Linked DNA regions of Homo sapiens. The protein of the gene in region 2 interacts with the protein of the main gene of each other region in a pairwise test. Each region holds a gene or a part of one and is shown on either strand. Other genes may lie near its edges.

The links. Proteins that work in one complex are often made in the same cells at the same time.
Region 1: the proteins of SLC17A9 (region 2) and MYG1 interact in binary tests that used the Homo sapiens proteins (3 or more experiments, as listed by UniProt).
Region 3: the proteins of SLC17A9 (region 2) and TARS2 interact in binary tests that used the Homo sapiens proteins (3 or more experiments, as listed by UniProt).

Annotation. Positions count from the first base shown.
Region 1 is NC_000012.12:53,301,790-53,307,740, reverse strand, and holds the end of MYG1 (MYG1 exonuclease precursor), read right to left. Parts: intron 4,708-5,951; coding exon 4,548-4,707; intron 1,834-4,547; coding exon 1,681-1,833; intron 1,544-1,680; coding exon 1,421-1,543; intron 1,062-1,420; coding exon 880-1,061; intron 776-879; coding exon 592-775; 3' UTR 564-591; downstream 1-563. Other genes in the region: AAAS (aladin), read left to right, coding at 28-252. UniProt on the Homo sapiens protein: 3'-5' RNA exonuclease which cleaves in situ on specific transcripts in both nucleus and mitochondrion. Involved in regulating spatially segregated organellar RNA processing, acts as a coordinator of nucleo-mitochondrial crosstalk.
Region 2 is NC_000020.11:62,948,274-62,957,304, reverse strand, and holds the start of SLC17A9 (voltage-gated purine nucleotide uniporter SLC17A9), read right to left. Parts: upstream 4,597-9,031; 5' UTR 4,475-4,596; coding exon 4,416-4,474; intron 4,095-4,415; exon of another isoform or gene 4,074-4,094; coding exon of another isoform or gene 4,033-4,073; intron 541-4,032; coding exon 343-540; intron 1-342. UniProt on the Homo sapiens protein: Voltage-gated ATP nucleotide uniporter that can also transport the purine nucleotides ADP and GTP. Uses the membrane potential as the driving force to control ATP accumulation in lysosomes and secretory vesicles.
Region 3 is NC_000001.11:150,482,651-150,490,481, reverse strand, and holds the start of TARS2 (threonine--tRNA ligase, mitochondrial), read right to left. Parts: upstream 3,064-7,831; 5' UTR 3,032-3,063; coding exon 2,966-3,031; intron 2,625-2,965; coding exon 2,428-2,624; intron 1,519-2,427; coding exon 1,395-1,518; intron 1-1,394. UniProt on the Homo sapiens protein: Catalyzes the attachment of threonine to tRNA(Thr) in a two-step reaction: threonine is first activated by ATP to form Thr-AMP and then transferred to the acceptor end of tRNA(Thr). Also edits incorrectly charged tRNA(Thr) via its editing domain.

The sequences.
Region 1 (5,951 bases), on a different chromosome or scaffold from region 2:
TGATCCTTTTCTTTCCCTTCTCTGCAGGGCTGGTCCACAGGCCGAATTGCCCACATCCCGCTGTACTTTGTCAATGCCCAGTTTCCACGTTTTAGCCCAGTGCTTGGGCGGGCCCAGGAACCCCCTGCTGGGGGTGGAGGCTCTATTCATGACCTGCCCCTCTTTACTGAGACATCCCCAACCTCTGCCCCTTGGGACCCTCTCCCAGGGCCACCACCTGTTCTGCCCCACTCCCCACATTCCCACCTCTAAGAATAAATAAGTTTTCCTTTTGTTTTCCACTCAGTTACCAGTCTGTCTTTTCCAGGGAGTTGCAGTGGGGTACAGTAGGGGAAAAAAGCATGGACTTTGGGTTAAGGCCCTGTTCTGTCACTTTTTAGCCACTTGTGAATTTGGTCACGTTATTTAATCCTAGAAACTATGGTTTCAAATGATTTGGGAAGCAAGGCTGAGAAGTTACTGTGAAGAAAATATATCTAGCACAGGGTCTTACACATAAATAGTTGTTTCACTTTTCACAAGTTTCTGGAATGGTGTAGGGCAAGAATAAGTCAAGGACTGGGTCAGTATGAGATGGAAGGTTTTATTAGACTAGGAGATTTGTGGGAGGTATGAGCGCTGGGCCAAGGTGGCACGGGCCATGCTCAAGGCACCCTCTCGGGTGTGGTGACCGCCAGTGAAGCCGCTTGCATGGACGAAGATGCAGCCAGGGATCCCACTGACCTGGTCCAGGGCCTCGTCCCGAAGACCCCGCCATGGCTCTGGCAGGGGCAGCCTGGGCAGAAAGAGGGAGTACAGCAGGGGTCAGAGTTGGCAGCCTTCTCTTAACAAGGCTGAGACAAGCCTGAAGGTCTGCAGAGTGGTTCCCTAGGGCCTCACCGGCTTTGGAATGAGTGGGGCTCCTTGGGCACACACTGTATTCGCCACTGTCCAGCCTGGTCAGTGTAGATAACAAAGAAGATGGCCACTGGAGGGGACAGCCCAGATTCCAGGTGGTAGAGATGCTCCTTCCAGGGACATGCACCTTTCGCCAGTTCCACAATCTCTCCACTTGGGTCCACCTGAAAGAGGGAGAGCATAGCTAGAAGGTTTAAGGTAGGCTGGGCATGGTGATCATGTTTGTAGTCACAACATTTTGGGAGGCTGAGGTGGGAGGATCAGTTGAGCCCAGGAATTTGAGACTAGCCTAGGCAACAAAGTAAGACCCTGTCTCTACAAAAAATACAAAAATTAGCTGGGTGAGGTGGTGTGTGCCTGTAGTCCCAGCTACTCAGGAGGCTGAGGTGGGAGGACTGCTTGAGCCTAAGAGGTTGAGGTTGTCTGCCACTGCACTCCAGGGTTTAGGGTAGAAGAAGCAGGAGTTCCTGTTGATTGGCAGTCAGTAATCCTCAAGCCATAATGCCTCCTCCAAGGCCTATACCTGGAATCGCTGGGCAAGGGCCTCTTCCACCAAGGCCCGGGCTGGCAGCCAGCTGTGTTGGTAGAAATCTAATCTCTGCAGAAACTCCTCTTGAACCAGATCCATTGCACGCTTGAACCCTGCCTGGGAATGATGAGAATTAGAACCATGATGCTGGCCCAAACTTGGAATTTGCTAGGGCTTAGGAGGAGCAAATGCTCCCATTTTCCCCCCACCCAAGGTTCTTACAGGTCTCCGGGTCTCCTCCCAGGCCACCTTACCTCAGTGTCTTGGTCGGGGTGGTTCCAGGTAGGATTAAGTCGAGCAACTCGTGCACTCAGGGTAGTGGTCAGTGCATATCGAGGCTCCCCCTCTGCCCACTGGGAGATCCCATTGTCCACAGCATCCACCTCCTCCACAAAGTTCTCATACATCTAAGGCAGCAGCAGGGGAAACCTTCTTGAGGCTACCTGCTACTTATGTGAAATCTTACATGATTCAAAGTATGTTCATACACACTCTTTCAGCCCTGTGAGGATCTCTCAACATTAACTGGATGAGAAAAGGGAGAATTGGCAAGTTCAGCAGCTCGCTGAAGCTCAGACAGCTCGTTGTGCTGTGACTGGAATTCAGATCACCTGATTTCTAATCCATGCTCATTCTGCTGCACAAAGCCCAAACCAAAGCCAACACGTGTAGGGAGGGGACTGCTAACTTTTGAACAAGGAAGGTCTCTAGGTGCTAGAGGCTCTCTGTGGGAGTGGGTCCCTGTGGCTGAAGGCTGGTAAATCTCCAGGTGGGGTGAGTAGGTATTCAGTGACACGGTTAATGAGGTGCAGGAGCGGCTCTGGTTGAGAACACAAGTCAAGTGGGAGAAAATGAGTGTGAGACTAGACACCAAAAGCTGGTTGCTGGGTTAGGGTTCCAGGGAAGCCCATAATGTGCCTCATGACATCAGCAGTTGTCTCCTGGGTCTGAATAAATGGTAGGATAATGCCTCAAGAGTCTCGGGGCAGAAACTTTATGCAAAATTACCCTACAAAATAGGCCTCCATAACAGTACACCTGTGGTATGTAGAAAAGTGCTACTCTCAGAGCACTGAGAAAGTAACTCCTATGCCCAGCTCTTCTTGGTTTGGATCCCAACCTGATGCTCAGTTAAAACATGGGTTTAGGCCGGGCGCGGTGGCTCACGCCTGTAATCCCAGCACTTTGGGAGGCCGAGGCGGGCGGATCACGAGGTCAGGAGATCGAGACCATCCCGGCTAAAACGGTGAAACCCCGTCTCTACTAAAAATACAAAAAATTAGCCGGGCGTAGTGGCGGGCGCCTGTAGTCCCAGCTACTTGGGAGGCTGAGGCAGGACAATGGCGTGAACCTGGGAGGCGCAGCTTGCAGTGAGCCGAGATCCCGCCACTGCACTCCAGCCTGGGCGACAGAGCGAGACTCCGTCTCAAAAAAAAAAAAAAAAAAAAAAAAACATGGGTTTAGGCTGAGGTGGGAGGATCACTTGAGCCCAGGAGTTTTTGAGTCCAGCCTGGGCAGCATAGCAAGACCCTCTCTACAAAAAAATTAAGATATATAATTAGCCAGGCATGGTGGCATGCACCTGTAGTCTCAGCTACTTGGGGGGCTGAGGTGGGAAGACTGCTTGAGCCCAGGAGTTCAAAGCAGCAGCAAGCCATGATGGCACCACTGGACTCCAACCTGGGCAACAGTCTCTCAAAAAAAAATACGGGTTAAATTTAGTCAATTGTTGCTGGGATTAGTGGCTCACGCCTGTAATCCCAGCACTTTGGGAGGCCAAGGTGGGTGCGTTACTTGAGGTCAGGAGTTTGAGACCAGCCTGGCTAACACGGTGAAACCCCGTTTCTACTAAAAATAAAAAATTAGCCAGGCGTGGTGGCAGGCGCCTGTAATCTCACCTACTTGGGAGGCTGAGGCAGGAGAATCGCTTGAACCCAGGAGGCGGAGGTAGCAGTGAGCTGAGATTGTGCCACTGCACTCCAGCCTGGATGACAGAGCAAGACCCCGTCTCAAAAAAACAAAAAAAAACAACAACAAAAATTTAGTCAGTTGTTTAGAAACCCTTCAGCAGTGGAAGGGAAAACTGACCCAGGCAGTCTAAAATCTTGATATTCCAAAAACTCTATAGTTACAGAGGGCAGAAAATGGGCAAGCTAAAACTGAGAACTGATGGGCCGGGTGCAGTGGCTCAGACCTGTAATCCCAGCACTTTGGGAGGCTGAGGTGGGCAGATCACGAGGTCAGGAGATCAAGACCATCCTGGCTAACACGGTGAAACCCCACCTCTACTAAAAATACAAAAAATTAGCCGGGCATGGTGATGGGCGCCTGTAGTCCCAGCTACTCGGGAGGCTGAGGCAGGAGAATGGCGTGAACCCGGGAGGCGGAGCTTGCAGTGAGCCAAGATTGCGCCACTGCACTCCAGCCTGGGCGACAGAGCAAGACTCCATCTCAAAACAAAAAACAACAAAAAAACTGAGAACTGAATTCAACAGCCTACCTGCAAGAAATACAGCTGACTGAACCTGGGCTTTGACTTGTAAACAAGTAAGTGTCCTCAGTACTGTGCGACCTGACTTGCATGCCAGGGCCACTAGCCATATTCTTTCCCTAAGAGCAGGAAGCTGCTTGCAGGGGACACTGGTGGAATCCAAAGACAGTTTCATAATAAAACTCTTCTCAGCTGAGCTTCCCAATTTATGTGCCACTAGTGAACTACAGTGGTGCCTAACATACACTCCCCTCAACCTTCAGGGCAGCCAGAACCTCTGAGCCATCTGCTTCCACACATAAGCAGCCTCCCCTCTGTTTACCCAAAGGTGCTGAGCAATTGCTGTTTGTGTGTGTCAATAAAAAGACGGGGCCATGCTGCTTTATGGTTTTCAAAGCCCTTCCCCATATATTACAGCATCCACTTCTCACAACCACCCCAGGATGTAGACAGGGGAGGTATCACCATTCCCTTGTGAGATGAGCCTGACTGAGGGAGAGGATGAGTGTTGGGCCTGCTATAGGCCAGGAACCCTGACCCGAGGCCCAGTGCTGAGTGCTGTGTGAGCACTGCTCCCAGGCGGCCTGCTGGAAATGCATGTGGGGGGCATCTCTGTCCTCAGGTCCCCACCTTGTCATAGAGGGTGCCCACCATGCTGTCCTCTTCACTAGTGCCCAGCAACTGGGCCAGCAGCTTGTGCCCGAAGTGCAGATAGATGAGTCCCGCACTGCTCAGCTTGGTCTGCCACGGCTTCCCAGGGGACAGGGAGCTCATGGTCTCTGTGAAAGACCTGAGGAGCATAGGGAGGTGGGGCTGAGGTGAGGGACCTTGGCTAGAGTCTCCATGCATTCATTCAATGGTTAACTCAATGCTTCCTATCTGCCACATTTTATGTTTTATTAGACATTAAGGATAAAAAACCAAGACACTGTCCTTGCTTTCAGATTCATCTGCCGGAGGCCGACAAACACAACCCCCTGAGTACTCTCACTAGACGAGACAAGGGAAAGGAAGGAAGGGATGAGGAAAGGGTTCAGAGGAGAGCCTTCAGGTCAGTTCTGAAAGATGAATTAGTGGGTGTCCACCAGATAGACAAGGGGTGAAAGAGAAAAAGCATTCCAAGCAGAGAGAACAACATGAATGATGGCTGAGAGACAAGTGTCTTGATGGAACTTCAGCAAAGGCAGCTCAGGTGTGAGAAGTGAATGGCAAAAGAAAAAGCTGGAAGGGCAGGCAGGGCCAGACCATCGGACTTTATCTGTGGGTAATCGAAGTCATTGGGGGATTTTAAGCAGGCAGGTGCATGTTACAGCATTGCACCAGCCAGCATGGAGAACAGATGCAAGGAGATTACCTGCAATGGTTCAGGTGAATAAAGAAGGCAAGAATTTGAACAGCAGTGGGGCAGAAAATAGAGAAAAGATATAACAGATGTTAGGGAAGCAGAAACTACAGCCATGATTTCTAAATACCAGTCCATCTCAGAATTACCTAGGGAGCTCCATTTGTTAACTGACTTTTATTATTAAATATTGAGTAAATACAGGCTGGGCTCAGTGGCTCACACCTCTAATCCCAACACTTTGGGAGGCCAAGGCGTGATCACTTGAGGTCAGTAGTTTGAGACCAGCCTGGCCAACATGCTGAAACTCTGTTTCTACTAAGAATGGAAAAATTAGCCGGACATGGTGGCACACGCCTGTAGTCCCAGCTTCTTGGGAAGCTGAGGCAGGAGAATTACTTGAATCTGGGAGGTGGAGGTTGAAGTGAGCTGAGTGCCACTGCACTCCAGCCTGGGCAACAATAGCGAAACTCCATCTCAAAAAAAGTAAAAATAAAAAAAATGAGGCTGGGCATGGTGGCTCACACCTGCAATCCTAGCACTTTGGGAGACTGAGGCGGGTGGATCACCTGAGGTTAGGAGTTCAAGACCAGACTGGCCAACATAGTGAAACACTGTCTCTCCTAAAAATACAAAAATTAGCTGGGCGCCTGTAGTCTCAGCTACTTGGGAGGCTGAGGCAGGAGAATCAC
Region 2 (9,031 bases):
CAGAGCTGCCTCGTGAGGAGACCAGGTACTCCAGGGGAGCGGCCTGCCTCCTCTGCCTGCAGGGCCCTGGGGCCTTGCCAAGCCTGGCCTCTCCCCTCCCAGCTCCCATCTTCCTCTGGGGGGGTCTTCTGCCCAGATTTATCCACCAAGCTCCTTCCCCAGGAGTCGCATCCTCTGTGTCCACGAAGCTCCTTCCCCAGGAGTCGCATCCTCTGTGTCCACCAAGCTCCTTCCCCAGGAGTCGCATCCTCTGCGTGCAGCAGCACAGCCAGCCCACTCGCCCCTGGAGGCCCCAGTGGGGCGGCCCCCACCAGCCAGGAGATGGGGAAGATGGGCAGTTACCGATCCCCGAGGTGGCCGCCCACAACCTGTGTCAGGCAGTAGCCCCAGAAGAAGCTGCTGAGCACGATGCCGGCCTCCTTCTTGTTCCAGCCGAAGTCCTGGCTCATGGAGACGGTGCAGATGGGCATGCTGGAGCGGGCGCAGTACAGAAGGCATGTGCCCAGCAGCAGCGTCCCCGTCCATGCCTGGCACTCGGGCCTGTGGGACAGGAGATGGTCAGGCCCTGGGGAGGCCCCACGGCCCTGCTGCTTCGAGTTCATCACTCAGAGACCTCCCTCAGGGCTGGGGGACATGGACTGTGAATGGGGACAGCTTTGATGGAGGGCAACTTGGCAAGCATTCAAACACCTAATCGCACCTATCTGCTGACCCCTGGGAGAACACAGGCAGCCAGAAATGAGGCACAGTGGCTCCTGGGAGCAACTGAGTGGCCAGCACTCGGGCAGGTCACAGCAACGACTCATCCCCACAAAAGGTGCCTGGGCCGGGCCCTGCTTGTTCCCCTCAAAGAGAACAGGGGAGAGGGTGACCAGGAGATGGGTGGCAGAGGAGTCGGACACTGGAGAGTCTCACCCCACCCTTCCCAAAAGGTCCTGTCTGCCCCTGCGGGGAGCTGGCTGCACCCCGGGTGTGTGCTCCCAAGAACCTGCCCCAGATGAGTGAGTGGATGACGGTGTGCTGTGGACAGAGGGGCAGGTATACGGCCTTCTCGGCACTCTCTGCAAGTCTGCGCCTAGACGCTTCCCACGGGAGAAAAGACCACCAAGTCGGGCACTGACCATGCCCGAGGTCACAGAGCCAGGCCGGCCAGCTCACACTCCCAATCCTGGTGAGGGAGGCCGGGCGAGATCTCAGAGGCAAGAACAGGTCACTCCAGCAGCCCAGAGCTGCGTCCTCTGACACCTCCTGCTCTGCCAGAGGCTATCCTGGCTCCAGCCCCTCCCCACGGCAGGGCCAACCATTAACCCCTGGAGTTTGGAGAAAGTTGTGTGGGAGGAAGTGCTGTCTGTCCTGGAACTTGGCAGTGAGTGTGGTTTCGCCAGCGTCATTTGCAGCCAGGTTCCACTCTGGGGACAACTGGCTTGCCCCATATCTGGCTGCTCCCTGGGTTACCACAGAAGGACACAGTCCTCACTGCCAGGCTGCCTAACCCAGTACAGCCCTGGCCTCCACGCCCTGTCCTGGCGTGGTTGATACCCGCAGCCCTGTTGTTTACCTAGCCCCAGGCTCTCTGTAAACAGTTTTCATTGACTTAACACACGAGGCTTGCAGAAGGGACATGGGGGCCCCCACCCTTAACTTTCCACTAAAAGCCACACAGTCCAAAGGTGCCTTTAAAAAGGAGCTTTAGAGCCAGGTACGGTGGCTTATGCCTGTAATCCTAGCACTTTAGGAGGCCGAGGTGGGCAGATCACTTGAGCCCAAGAGTTCAAGAGCAGCCTGGGAAACATGGGGACATCCTCAGCTCTACAAAAAAAAACAAAACAAAACAAAAAAAAACTTTAAAAATTAGCCAGGGCCGGGCATGGTGGCTCACGCCTGTAATCCCAGCACTTGGGGAGGCTGAGGCGGGAGGATCACAAGGTCAGGAGTTCGAGACCAGCCTCGCCCACATGGTGAAACCCCATCTCTACTAAAAATGTAAAAATTAGCCAGGCGTAGTGGCGGGTGCCTGTAATCCCAGCTACTTGGGAGGCTGAGGCAGGAGAATCGCTTGAACCTGGGAGGCAGAGGTTGCAGTGAACCGAGATCAAACTACTGAACTCCAGCCTGGGCGACAGAGTGAGACTCCACCTAGCGAGACTCCATCTCAAAAAAAAAAAGAAAAAAAAACAACAATTAGCTGAGTGTGGTGGTGTGCACCTGTGGTCCCAGCTGGGAGGCTGAAGTAGGAGGATCGCTTGAGCCCAGGAGGTCGAGGTTGCAGTGAGCCGAGATTGCACCACTGCACTCTAGCCTGGGCAACAGAGAGAGACTCTGTCTTGAAAAAGAAAGGGGGGGAGGTGGGGGACCTGTGTCCAGGTGGCACCTGCCCCGCACTGCCTGGCCGCTAGCTAGAAACAGCAGAAAGCTCAGTTGCACTGATCCTCACCCCCATTGAGGCCAGCACAGGACTGAGAACACAGAGCCACTCCAGGGCCTCCTTGGAAGGAGGAAGTCAAGAACAGCCCTTCCAGGCAAGCAATCTGCCCTACGTGGCAGGCGGCAGCCACAGCCCCTTCTCTGAGCTGGGCAGGTGGTGCTGGCCAGGTGGGCACAGGGGCACCCTCCACAGCTGCCGGGGAGACAAGGATGTCAGGCTGGAGAGGATGGCCCAGACAGTCGGCTACCTGAGGCCTGACTAGGACCCCAGGCTGGGAATCCTCCATCCTGCTGGGGGCGCGGGGGACGGGGGGTGTGCCAAGAACCGGAAAGCTTTGGGCAGCTTGAACAGCTTCCTCCCACCACTCTGCACTCCCTGAGCCCAGCAGCCTGCTTCCTGTGAACTTTCTAGAGCAAACGGCCCCTGTGCAGAAGCAGCATCCACGGCTGAGCAAACAGGTGGTCACATGGCCCCTCCATTCAGAAAAGGGAACTGTGCGGGGCCGGGCCAGGCGAGCAGCAAACCGGAGAGTGTGGGTGCCGCCCTCCAGCTCTGTTCTCGCCTGGCCCAGCCTTTGTGATGTGGCTGCAGGAGGGCGGGCTAGGAAAAGGCGTGCGTGTGGCAGCCTTGACCCACAGGCCCCTCCAGAATCCTTGGCGCTACCCAATAAGGGCCTGCAAAGGAAGTTGAAGAGCTGTGGCAAGGGCTCCTTTTTAAACATCGAGCCTGGGAGGGACGTAGTGAAGGCTGCGGCAAGGGCTCCTTTTTAAACATCGAGCCTGGGAGGGACGTAGTGAAGGCTGCGGCAAGGGCTCCTTTTTAAACATCGAGCCTGGGAGGGACGTAGTGAAGGCGGAGCCACTCAAACCAGCCGCCAGTGAGGAGGCCCTGAATCCCTGGGGAGCTGGCCCTGCCCGGCAGGCCTGGATGAACGTGGGTGGGGGAAGAGGAAGAGAGCAAGGGGCAGGGCCCGCTGAGGGCAGCCCTCCCCTCTAATTGGCGCCTGACAGGGCTGTGATCTGGGCTGCCAGCTTTTCCCATGCAGCCAGCGCTCCCTTCATCTGGGTGCCAACATCCGATGGTGGCACTGCCCCTTTGGGCCTTCCTACAACTCTTCCCAGCACTTCTAGGGTCCTCAGCCCTCATACAGCTGGGAACTGGTGGGGCCAGAAGGTGCCATTACCTTGCCATGGTCAGGGTAGGTACCCTGGGGACTCAGTGCAGGCAGGAGACTGCTCTGGAACCCACAGGGCCTGAGTCTAGGCCCAGGGTCCAGCCACTTAAGGCCTCAGCCCAAGACCCAGAGCCAAGGGGTTCAGCAGTGTGGGGGCTGCTCTCAGGAGCTCCCTGGCAGAGGCCCTCCCCAGCTGACCAATGGCCCGCGGTCACCATCTCGCCCGGTTTCTGAGGCGTCACCTGCCCAGGGAGCCTCCTACAGGCAGCAGTGCTGGTGGCCAGGCGACCTGCCCAGGCCCTGCTTCTCCCCACCACCAAATGCTCCGAGAGCTGAAGCCAGCGGGGAGCTCGTCCTCAGCACACAGCTGGCACGTGGTGGCAGGACCCCCCCCAACCCCGTCCAGCTGCAGGCTCCAGCCCGTGCCCCCTACCTGGCCTCCTGACTGTCCTGGCGCCTGCTTGTCAGGGTCATGCATACACAGGGTGGTTCCACCTGGCGAGGGGTATGCCTCCTGACTGTCCAGGACAATGCCCCTGGCCTGGGGAACATAGCCCTGCCTGGAAGAGCCCCAGGAACACTGGCTGGGATAGGGCACTTGCCAGGTCCGGTCCTGGAATCTCATGGCAGGGAGGAAGGACAGGGCACTCACTTCCTTCCACCTCCCACAAGGAACACAGGGGGCCCCACAGCCAGAGGAGCCCGCCCAGCTCAGCCCTCCCCACCTAGCATCGTCCCACGTGGCAGTATCTCAGCTCCCTCCCCACGGCCCCATCTCCACCGCTCCCACCCCCCCTCCCCTCACCCCCGCCACACCTGGACCACTGGGTGTCCCCGGCCATGTCCCTGCGGGCCTCGTCTGGGGGTGGCTGCATCGGGCTTGGGGTGCTCAGACGGCGTGGGCACAGCTGTGTCCCGGGGCTGCCTCCCAGCCCAGGCTGACCCACCCGGGCAGCACCGCCCAAGTCCACGTGTCAGTCCCAGCGCGCTTCCGTCTGGTTCTCTCAGGACTTGTCGCCCCCAGACGGCCACCAGGGCGGGCAGGCGGGGCAGGGCGGGGCATACCACTCGGGTGCCCGCCCCACCCTGCTGACGTCGGTCCCTGCTGCCCCATAGGAGCGGGGCCAACGGTCGCCCTGGCTGGGTCGCCCTGACTGTCCGACGCGCCCTGGCTCAGCCCCAGCAGAGGTTAGTGTGGGGGCAGAGGGGGATTCCCAGCAGCAGGCCGGTCAGACTGGGGCTTCAGAGAAGGGCCCTGGTGGTAAGCCTGGTCCAAGAGGTGCCAGCCCATCCCTTGGACACGACACGGAGCCATGGGGCCGTCTGTCCTCTGTCTATAAAATGGGGAATGATGGCAGTCCCTGCCTTACCGATCAAATAAAATCAGGGATAAAGTCTTAACCAAGTGCAAAGAGAGTAAAAGTACAGGGTCACTGATTTTTAAAATGGATCTTTCGGGGCAGGGATGGGTCCACTCCTGAGCCCTTGGACCAAGCCTGGGAGAGCTGGACAAATCCAGCGCTGGCCCATGTCTTCTCAGCAGATGCCTGTGAAGGTTGTCATTGGCCCCTGGGTTCCTGGACAAAAGGTGTCCTGAGGACCCATCACAGGCCAGGTTCTGGGCTCGGGGGCAGGGGTGACGGGGTGGGGCCCCCACTCTGTGTGCTCCTGCTGCCATGCCAAGGATGAAGCCAGCAGGGGAAGGCCTCAACCATGCAGCCTTTCCCCAGGAGGCGGCAGGGCCTGCTCCTCAGGCGTTGCCCCCACCTCCACTAGGGCCCACCTCAGTCCATCCTCCACGCAGCAGCCACCACCCAGGGGCCGAGGGAGACACGTCTAAGGCAGGGCCTTGCACTTAGAACAGACCCACATTTACCCCCTCCCTCCCCCTAGCCCTCAGGTCTCCAACAGCCCAACCCACTGCACTGCAGGGCCTGCTCCCAGGGCCCTCTGAACAGAAAGACACGGGCACCCTGAAAAGCAAGGTCATACTTTCATCCATCCTGACGTAGGGTAGGTGAAAAGATGGTGGCAGAGAGAGGTTTATTGCCCCAAACAGCCCTAGCCCATAGCCAGGAAGTTTGGAAACTGTTGCTAAACGTATCGCTGTCAACAGCACCCTCTTTGAGGTGATTCGCTTCCATTCACTCTGTGATGGTGATTTCCTACCGAGATCTGTGATCATGCTGCAGCAGACATTTGCCATCTGGTTACCCAAAGTCCCCTTCCTCCTGGAGCTGATGTTCTGGGGCAGGTAGACAAAAATCAAAGTAGTGAAAGGGGTAGGGAAGGGGTGTTACTTCAAATAGGTTGGGCTGAGGAGGCACCCCTGGACACCTGAGTGAAGGCTGGATGAGCTGAAGAAACGGGCCATGCAGGGATGGCTGGGTGGGTGAAGGGGCCATCTCACAGGGACATTATAAAGCTGGGTGCTGGTAGTGGCCAGATGGAGGCTCTCCACGCTTCTGGTGGATTCTGAGAGCTGCCCCGCACCCAAGCATCTTTGAGGCCTAAGGTGAAAAATTATGTAGGGACAATAGACAGTCAACACCTGGGTTTTCAAGGACACAGGGTGACCTTGCGGACAGGGCAGTCACAGCCAGCACCCACTGGCCTCTGCTTCTGGAAGGCTGCGTGCCTCCCTCTTGTTGGGCCTGGCCCACCTAACTTCTTGTTTATTTCAAGTGCTGCTATAGGGAGACGATGCTAGAGATTTTCCTAAAGCAAATCCACACCTCACTACGTATGGCGCCCGTTGCTCAGCCTCTGCATCCACACCCCCCACAGACGCCCCAGGAGACCCCGCACAGCTTCTTGTAAACCAAGACAAGCCAGCCCTGGGCCTGGGGCTCCTCCCTGCACCCCACTTAGCCCTGCAACCTTCCAGCCCAACTACAATTCTCAAGATGAGGAGTCCATGAAAAGGAGACTGACAGATGACACTTTCCTCTGCCATGACTGACAGGCAGCAGCAAGAGGGAAGACCGCGGTACTGGACATCACGTGCGGGAACTGCCTCAAAGGTGGGGGCACCTTTCGGGCTGAGCTAACCCAGTCAACAGCAGACTGGAAAAAGACAAAGAACTGTGTGAGATGGTGCTCAAAACCAGAAAGATGAACTCTGCAATGACGACAAATGGATTCGGTGTGATGTGGGCGTGATACAGAGAAACATTCTTGAAGGTTCTGGAGCAGTTCATTTTTCTCAGAGCTGGTAAACTCATTGTTCGAATCTTACAAGCACTAGTGTTCAACATTTCTAAAACTGGGAGGGCCCAGTGAGGACTGGATGGGCACACAAATCTATAAACGAGCACAGACGAACCCTGGGCTGCTGTGACCGCCAGCACCTCTTCCCGTTCTTCCATGACCCTCCATGGCAGAGAATTCTTGGTGACGGGTCAGCCTGCTTCACTTTCAAAGCCAGCTGGGAAAATTACCAAAGCTGTCAGTCACACACCGTGATCCACAAGAGGGAGAAAACCTTGTTTGTGTGAGGAACGCCTACAGATGTGTCTCCAGGAAGCAGAAGTCACAGCCAGGCGGAGACCTTGCCTGACACGGGCAGCTCAAGGCAACAGCAGCTCCACCGCTTCTCCCTGGTTCCCAAGCTCATCAATTCCACCTCAAATACACAGAGACCCAAGGACAGGAGGCGCTGCTGCACCCAGCACTCTTCATCTCCGAAGTGAGCCTGCGGGGTGACCAACTGCCTTGCATGGACGGACAGCTGGCGGAAGAGCCTGCAACGTGACCTGCATTTACAAACATGAGGAAACCCACTCACCTTCAGTTGTTACTCCTTTCATGAATTCTTTTGGTTATAGCTGTGCCTATGGCTTTACGGGCTTCACCTGATAAATGGTCTTCTGTACTATGGACAATTTGGACCCGTAAACCTGGCCTTGAACTAGGTGACACTGAAATGTTACAGACAAATCAGAACGTCACATTCCCTTTAAATATTCCCCGCACACATGCACCAGGCTGACTGGTGGATACTGGGGTGTGAAATGAGAGAAACAGCCCCCACTGTGCAGATGTGGGGACATGATTATTATCAATTAACCACAGGCTGCACCTCAGCTCCTGCACACCAGGTGCCTTGTGCCGGTGGCTCTGTAGCATGGGCCTGTTTATCTTCAAAGCCATTTTGTGGCTTCTGGAAAAGGCAAACAAGCTCAGGACATTGTATCTCCAAAGAGCACATCTCTTAAAAGATTCTTGCCATAGCTAGTTACACCAAAGGCCCATTCAAACCCCATGTTCTACTTTAACAGAAGTGAAAAACCACAAGCAAAGATGGCATTCCAAAATAAGGCAGAATATCTAAGACAGGAAGGCCATGTGTGCAAGGATGGTGTGAGCCTCCAGACTGTAGTGTGGGAGCTCACACTGAAGCATTCCTGGTGATGCCCACCTCCACTAAGAACTACCGTGCTGCCTTCTGACCCGTGAGGCTAATGGACTGGCACAGGTGTGTGAACATCAAGAACACTGTGACATGCCACTGCCACATAGGGAGGAGCAGCAGGTGAGGAGAGGCCTTCCCTGTTCTCTGATACCCAACAAACATGCAAGCTCTCAACGCCTCGCTCCATGATGCCCGCTGCTCAGCTTCTCTGCATGGGCAGTTTCTGAATTTCACCTCAGGCCCTTGAAGGGGTCAGTCTGAGTCCTTTCCAAGAACCCTACAACTGCCTTCCACTCATGAAGACGCTCATGGCCCTGAAAGCATGGTAGCCACCCAGAATCAGACACCTGTAGTTATCTCCTGCCTGGGGCTCTGGCAGGTGGTGGTGGGTGTCAGGCTGACTGGTGGATACTGGGATGTGCTGGCGTATTCCCTCTGTTTTTAATATGTTTGGAAAATTTCATTAAGCAAAAAAAAAAAAAAAAAAAGAGTAATTACTTAGGCTATTAAAATCAGTTTAAAATCATGCAGTGGGTAGCTCAAAAGTTCTACTTCCTTCACACCAAGGAAATTAGTTTATGAAACATTAAGTGCCCCAGTCAAGAGAGCAGCCGATAGGTTTCAAATTAAACACACCAAGTACAGATTTACAAACTAAAAGGGGCAGCACTGTCAGAGTGAGAGGAGAGCCAACTACAGTTCCAAGAGGCGAGCTTTCTTCTGTCCTTCCATTCCAAGATATCAACTTTCAATACAAATGCATCAGTATTTGTTATTAAAATACCCTTAGGAAAAAAGAGAGCTTCCAGATAACAGTTCTGAGAAAAATGTGAAAACTTTTACTGTTACATTAAGAACAGGTGGTAGAAGCAACCTATTCCGCACTTCTCAAAAGATACAGAGGGGCACATATGCCACACTGGAATAAAGAATACAGAATCAAACATGTACAAAGGTACCACAGCAGGTTATGGTTCATACAGGACTTTAAATGACCCATGTTGACAATACAATTTGC
Region 3 (7,831 bases), on a different chromosome or scaffold from region 2:
CCACAAAATGGGGATCCTAGATTTTGGGGGTGACCACTAAAAAGTAACAAGCTTAAAAAAAAAGGCTGGGCACAGCAGCTCATGCCTGTAACCCCAACACTTCAGGAGGTCAAGGCAGGCGGATCATCTGAGGTCAGGAGTTCGAGGCCAGTCTGGCCAACATGGTGAAACCCTGTCTCTGCTAAAACATACAAAACTAGCCAGGCATGGTGGCGTGTGTCTGTAATCCCAGCTACTCAGGAGGCTGAGGCAGGAGAATCACTTGAACCCGGGAGGTGGAAGTTGCAGTGAACCAAGATCGCGCCACTGCACTCCAGCCTGGGTGACAGAGTGAGACTCCATCTCAAAAAAAAAAAAAAAAAAAAAAGACTGAATAGAAAAGAAAGAAGGCCAGTATTTTTTCTTCTTTCAGTGCATAGAAGCTCCAGCCCCACCCCTCAATCCTTGGTTCTTCCCAGTTCCAAAGCATAGAAGCTGGAGGCCAGTCAGTCTTCTGCTGCTCCTGTAAGCTTTTAGGGCTTCAGAATAATTTTTCTTTTTGAGACGGAGTCTCGCTCTGTCGCCCAGGCTAGAGTGCAATGACGCGATCTCAGCTCACTGCAACCTCCGCCTCCAGGGTTCAAGCAATTCTCCTGCCTCAGCCTCTCAATTAGCTGGGATGACAAGTGCTCACCACCACGCCCAGCTAATTTTTGTATTTTTAGTAGAGACGGGGTTTCTACTATGTTGGCCAGGCTGGTCTTGAACTCTTGACCTCAGATGATCCACCTGCCTCGGCCTCCCAAAGTGCTGGGATTACAGGCGTGAGCTACTGTGCCTGGCCAGAATAAGCTATCTTCTTAACACAGTGGTTACTTAGGTCTCTGTTTGGTCTTTTAGTCCTATTTTTTTCTGTCCCACGAATCTAGTGCGATATATTCCTCTTGGATTTGGTCACTATTTACACATAGATGGCAGGAGAACTCTATTTTTCTGGATCCTAATAGGCAAGGTCTGTGCTACCTGAGCTGACATGAAGAAGACAAGGTGGGGAGGTGACCAGGTTGTTTGCTCAGCTGTATAAGCCATGTTAGAATTGAATATACACTACAGATGACTTATAATGTACGTGCTCAAGAGTTGAGGGGGCTGAATTTACATATTTATCCTTTCGTTTTTTCAACATATCATCTCTCTCCCTCTCACTAGCACAAATGTTTGCTTAATAGATCGAAGCTAAGTTAAAAACTTTCACCATAAGTTTCCTAACCAGAAATAGTCAAGACAGTCTGTGGTAGGTCTCCCTCCCAACTGCAAATGGAGAAACTGCGGCAAAAGAATAAAATGTTAGAATTTCCTGCTTCAATATCTCTTGGTTTAGTAGTCACTGTATTCCTGATAAGAAAGAAACTTACTGCTTTCCCCTCTGGGGAATCGAATGTCAGAAATCTGAGGTCAGAATCTGTCTCCAAGGGCCGCTCCAGATCATAAGGTTCTCCATTCACTTGAGCAGCCACTGCAGTATCTGCCAGTGTTGAACTTCAGCAGTGGAAGGTGGGGATGAAGAAAAAGACAGGGTTACAAGGCACAAAAAGGAAAATATCACATGTTCTGATTCCTATATGAGAGTTTAAAAAGTTGATCTCACAGTGGTAGAGAATAGAGTGATAGTTACCAGAGGCTGGAAAGGATGGGGGAGGGGAGATGAAGAGGTTGGCTAATGGGTACAAAAATAGAGTTAGACAGAAGGAATATGCTCTAATGTTCCATAGCAGAGTTGGGTGAATACAGTTAATAATAATTTATTGTATATTTCAAAATAGCTAGAAGATTTGAAATAGTCCCAACACAAAGAAATGATAAATGTTTGGGGTAACAGATATCCTGAACACCCTGATTTGATCATTACATATTGTATGCATATATCAAAATATCACATATACCCATTCATATGTTCAATTATTATGTATCAATTATTAAAAAGTAAATTAATGATTTAAAACAGACAGGGTTACAATCCACAGTGGGGAGAAAGTTGCTCATCTCTCAGCAACTGTAAACTTGCAAAGGTGAAATGAGTTACCAGAGCAACAGAAGCTTTCATTTCTTTCCCCAATGAAAGGACAGAGACTCTGATGCAGAAACTAATACAGATAAAACAAATCTCAGGCCGGGTTTGGTGGCTCATGCCTGTAATCCCAGCACTTCGGGAGGCTGAGATGGAAGGATCGCTTGAGCCCAGGAGTTCAAGACTAGCCTGGGCAACATGGAGAGACCCCGTCTGTATAAAAGAACAACAACAAAAAACAAAAACAAAATCTTCAGGAAAGGCTATCTTAATGGGGACGGAACAGAAACAAGCAGACCAAGTTTTCTTCCCCTGCTCAAGTGAAGAGAAAGTAAAGGGGCAGAAGGATAATCCTGGTAGTTACAGGATGGGCCTGTTACCTGATCTGCCGGGCTAGTTGGTAGGGGGTTGTGTTCCATGCCACAGCATCAATTTTCTGGCCTCCAGGAAGTGATATCTTAATAGTCCGGGGTTCCTTCTGTGCCATGCTTGCTAATCTCTTTACCTGAGCAGCCCACAGCTCCTCAAAAAGGCCAAGCCGCTCTGCCAACCAGCGTGGAGGGGTCGACACAACTGCCTGGAGGGAAAGATATATTAGCAGGTAACACACGTCCCATCATTCTTTCTTAGAATTGCAGATGATGGCACTTTGGGATGGTTAAGTGGACTTCGTCCGAATTCCTACTTTTTAAGGGGATTGGGTGATACAAGACCCTAGGCTGGGGGTCCTTCGAGCTCAGAGTCCCCCAGACCGCTAACTCGAGAATTAGATAACGAGTTTAGATACGAGTCCTTTTCTGGGGACTCGGAGGACCAGGGAGAGGAGGAGTGGCGTGAGGCTGGGTTAACATAAAAATTTGGGGGCTTCGGCTGGGCTAAGTCTGATGCGGATCGGAGCTTTGGGGGTGCCTCACGCACCGTGTGTAGCCTGCAAGCCTGTAAACCTTGGAGCCGGAGACACCGCCACCTCTGATACAGGGCCATGTTCCTTCACACCAGTGCCTACATCCTCAAACAGATTATCGCCGCTTCTCCTCCACGTAATTCTTCATTGGCTTCTGGTCCAACAAAGTCCGTGTCTATTGGTTACTACAGCTGCCACTCTAGTCTGGCACCACCTCCAGGAACTCCGAAGAGGTACACCCTACACAGCACCAGCAGCGGTGTGAGTGGTTCCGGCTGACCGGAAGACCGAAAATGTAACACACCCTCGCTATTCCCCCAGACCCGTGGCGTTTCAGCTGAAACCCAAAAATAGCAATTAGGCGTCCTGTGGCTTTGAGGACAAGGGCAGGTGAACTTTTGAGGGCGAGAGTGGGAGAAAACCAGACAGGAAATGGTAGTAATTTCCCTTTAACTATACATTTTATTTTACGTGGTCCTTACAGCAAGTAGCAAAACTTAAGAGCATAGACTGGGGAACCAGACAGACCTAGTGTAAATTCTGGATCTGCCATTAACTATGTAATTTTGGGAAAATTATTAAACTTCTCATATTTATTTAATAGAGACCGGGGGGGGCGGGAGGGGGGGGCGGGTCTCACTATGTTGGCCAGGGTAGTCTCGAACTCCTGGCCTCAAGCAATCCCTCCCCTCCCCCCCACCAAACCGCCACCGCGCTCCGGCCTCCCAGAGTTCTGGAATTACAGGCATGAGCCGCCTTGCCTGACCTATTTAATTTCTCTAAGCCTCAATTTTCTCAACTATAAAATGAGAATAGTGTTGCTCCCAATTGTTGAGTTAAATTTTATGTAAATCGTCTAGTGTGGCCCATGGTTTTTTGGTAATGGGCAAAAGCAACAAGAAGCTATTATGATAAATGACTGTAACAGTTTTATTTTTTAATTTTGAGACAAGGTCTCACCGTTGCCCAGGCTGGAGTGCAGGGGTACAATCATGGCTCACTGCAGTCTCGACCTCCTGGGCTCAACTGACCACCTCAGCCTCTGGAGTAACCACTTTAAAGCTGGAGCAAAGATGGCCGCGCGCAGTGGCTCACGCTGTAATCCCAGCACTTTGGGAGGCCGAGGCAGGTGGATCACCTGAGGTCAGGAGTTCTAGACCAGCCTGGCCAACATGGTGAAACCCCGTCTCTACTAAAAATACAAAAATTAGCTGGGCGTGGTGGTGGGCGCCTGTAATCCCAGCTACTTGGGAGGCCGAGGCGGGTGGATCACCTGAGGTCAGGAGTTCTAGACCAGCCTGGCCAACATGGTGAAACCCCGTCTCTACTAAAAATACAAAAATTAGCTGGGCATGGTGGTGGGCGCCTGTAATCCCAGCTACTTGGGAGGCTGAGACAGGAGAATCGCTTGAACCCGGGAGGTGGAGGTTGCAGTGAGCCGAGATCACGCCATGCACTCCAGCCTGGGGGACAAGAGCGAGACTTCATCTCAAAACAAAACAAAAACAAAAAAGCTGGAATCAAGAATCTGCAGAGGTCAGTTTGAGTCCCTTTATACTCATGGTGCTTAATAGGGACTTTATAGACCTTTTAATCTTTTTTTTTTTTTTTTGAGATGGAGTTTCACTCTTGTTGCCCAGGCTGGAGTGCAGTGGCGTGATCTCGGCTTACCGCAACCTCCGCCTCCCCAGGTTCAAGCGCTTCTCCTGCCTCAGCCTCCCGAGTAGCTGGGATTACAGGCATGTGCCACCCCAGGCCCAGCTAATTTTGTATTTTTAGTAGAGACAGGGTTTCTCCATGTTGGTCAGGCTGGTCCCGAACTCCCAGCATCAGGTGATCCGCCTGCCTCAGCCTCCCAAAGTGCTGGGATTACAGGCGTGAGCCACCATGCCCGGCCGAGACCTTTTAATCTGACAGATGAGGAATTTAAGGTCAAACAGCAAGTGCTGATGGTGATTTCTGAATCCAAGCTTGGTTTTCTTTTACCACACCATGCTTTCTCTAGAAGAGTTTGCTCCCAGTATACTCCCCCATCACCTCAGAAAGAGGTGCCTGACTAGAATTTTAGCTCTCTGCTCCCTACATAAGCCCTTTGCCTCTAATTCCTATCCCAGCTCTCAACTTCCTTTATCCTTTCTCTTCCCTCTCCCTGATACATCTAGGACACAGGACTAGGTAAATTTCATCAAATTTACTCAGTAAATATGGGAACATGGTCAGATTTGTAGTAAAGTATGAAGGGAAACTGACTTGGGGGTAGCCATCAGGCTGTCAGTAATTCTCATTAGTCCCCTCACCTGGAGGTGGGGATGGTTAGAGTTGGTTCTGAAGTTTCAATGGTGATAGAATCAAGGGTTGTAGAGGAAGAGGTGTCAGAAAAAGCAGTTTAATCAAGGTTTCCGGAGAGACCAGGTTTCCCGGGCAGGGCAGTTGATCTGAGTCACAGGAGCCTCCATGGATCTTGGGTCCATCTTCTGGTAGACACCCTGAAATACAAAGAGAAAGAGACAAGAGTGTGGGAGAGGAAGATAACTTGTGTGTGTGTGGTTTGGAGAAGGTAGTTAAGAATTTTTAAATGGCATTCAGAAAGGGTGGCAACAGGCAGAATTCTTCTCATGCCTCTGCACCAAAAGGGGAAAGGTGTATTGCAGGCAACAAAATGGTAGGTGCCCAATAATTATTGAATCAAGTATGTACCAATCACGGTATTGATTTGATGCTCTCATTTACTAACTGCTTACTGTGTGCAATGCAGTGAGCTGGGTGCTGAGGGGATGCCGATCAATCAACTACCACATCATCACCTATGTAACTTGTGTTGCAGTGGAGGAAGGAAGGAATGTTGAGTTATTCCATCCGCCCTCTGTAAGAAGCAAGCAAGCAAGTAAGCAAGTGCAAGAGCAAGCTAAGGCCAATTCATGAGTTACTGGTTCTTCTACAACTTCGGACTTGTGACTAGCATATGCCTCAGTATTGGGGAATTTTAATCCATTAGTCAGCCTAGGAAACATCTATTCTTTTTTTTTTTTTTTTTTTTTTTTTTGAGGTGAAGTCTTGCTCTGTTGCCCGGCTGGAGTGCAGTGGCATGATCTTGGCTCACTGCAACCTCCGCCTCCTGGGTTCAAGTGATCCTCCTGCCTCAGCTTCCCCAGTAGCTGGGATTACAGGTGTACGCCACCACACCCAGCTAATTTTTTTTGAGTCAGAGTCTTGCTCTGTCGCCGAGGCTGGAGTGCAGTGGCGCTATCTTGGCTCACTGCAACCTCTGCCTCCCGGGTTCAAGTGATTCTTCTGCCTCAGCCTCCTGAGTAGCTGGGATTACAGGTGCGCGCCACCACGCTCGGCTAATTTTTGTATTTTTAGTAGAGACAGGGTTTCACCATGTCAGGCTGGTCTCGAACTCCTGACCTCGTGATCCGACCACCTTGGCCTCCCAAAGTGCTGAGATTACAGGCGTGAGCCACTGTGCCCGGCCTGTTTTTTGTTTTTTGAGATGGAGTTTCACTCTTGTTGCTCAGGCTGGAGTGCAATGGCACGATCTTGGCTCACTGCAACCTCCGACTCCCAGATTCAATCGATTCTCCTGCCTCAGCCTCCCGAGTAGCTGGGATTACAGGTGCCCGCCACCACACCTGGCTATTTTTTTGTATTTTTAGTAGAGATGGGGTTTCACAATGTTGGCCAGGCTGGTCTTGAACTCCTGACCTCAGGTGATCCACCTGCCTTGGCCTCCCAAAGTGCTGCGTTTACAGGCGTGAGCCACCATGCCTGGCTTGAAACATCTATTCTTAAAACTTGGGCTGTTGCCCCTCCACCCTAGACTACTACTGAACACCCGGTGCTATGCCTTCACTATTTCACCTAATTCCTAAAACAACTATGTCAAGTATACTCCCTTTAAAACAGGAAAATGATTCTCAAAGAAGTAAAGCCCCCAGTCTATCTGAATGCAAAGCCCTTGTTGTTTATGCTATGCCATACTGCCTCTCAGGGACCAGATTGGTCATAATGTGTCAGGTTATAAGATTCTGATACTTGTGGCCAAATAGGCCTTTGATATAGGGTAAAAGAGGTGGGTCCAATAGAAAGCCAAGAAAAGAGGCGTCTTCCGACTTTTCTCTACCAGATTAAGGTTAAGGAAAAAAGTGTGCACAAAATAAAGCTAGATTTCCACAGAAGTGCAGGAAAAAGGGAATCCACAGTGAAGGGTGTCCTAGGCCCTTAGTAAAATTTTAGGAAATTCTCAGCTTAACTCCACTTTTGGAATAGAAATTCCAAGGTGACTAGAGTCCTAGTTCAGAAGGTATTGTTTTTATAGCTTTAAACTACATGTAACTTTAAACTACATGTAAATATTTTCCACTTGTCCTCAGGATCAGCACATACCTCCAAATCTATCTTACTTCTTAGAAGCACTAAAGATGTAGAAAGTATATTTGGCTGGGTGTGGTGGCTCACGCCTGTAATCCCAACACTGGAGGCTGAGGCAGGCGGATTGCTTGAGTCCAGGAGTTCGACAACAGCCTGGACAACATAGTGAGACCCCCATCTCTACAAAAAATAAAAAATTAGCTGGGCATGGTGGTATGTGCCTTGGGAGGCTAAGGTGGGAAGATTGCTTGAGCCCAGGAGATCCAGTGCAGTGAGGCGTGATTGCACCACTGTACTGCAACCTGGGCAACAGAATGATACCCTGTCTCAAAAAAAAAAAAAAAAAAAAAAAAAAAAGAGAAGGCAGAGGCCGGGCACAGTGGCTCATGCCTGTAATCCCAGCACTTTGGGAGGCCGAGGCGGGTGGATCACGAGGTCAGGAGATCGAGACCACCCTGGCTAACATGGTGAAACCCCGTCTCTACTAAAAATACAAAAAATTAGCCGGG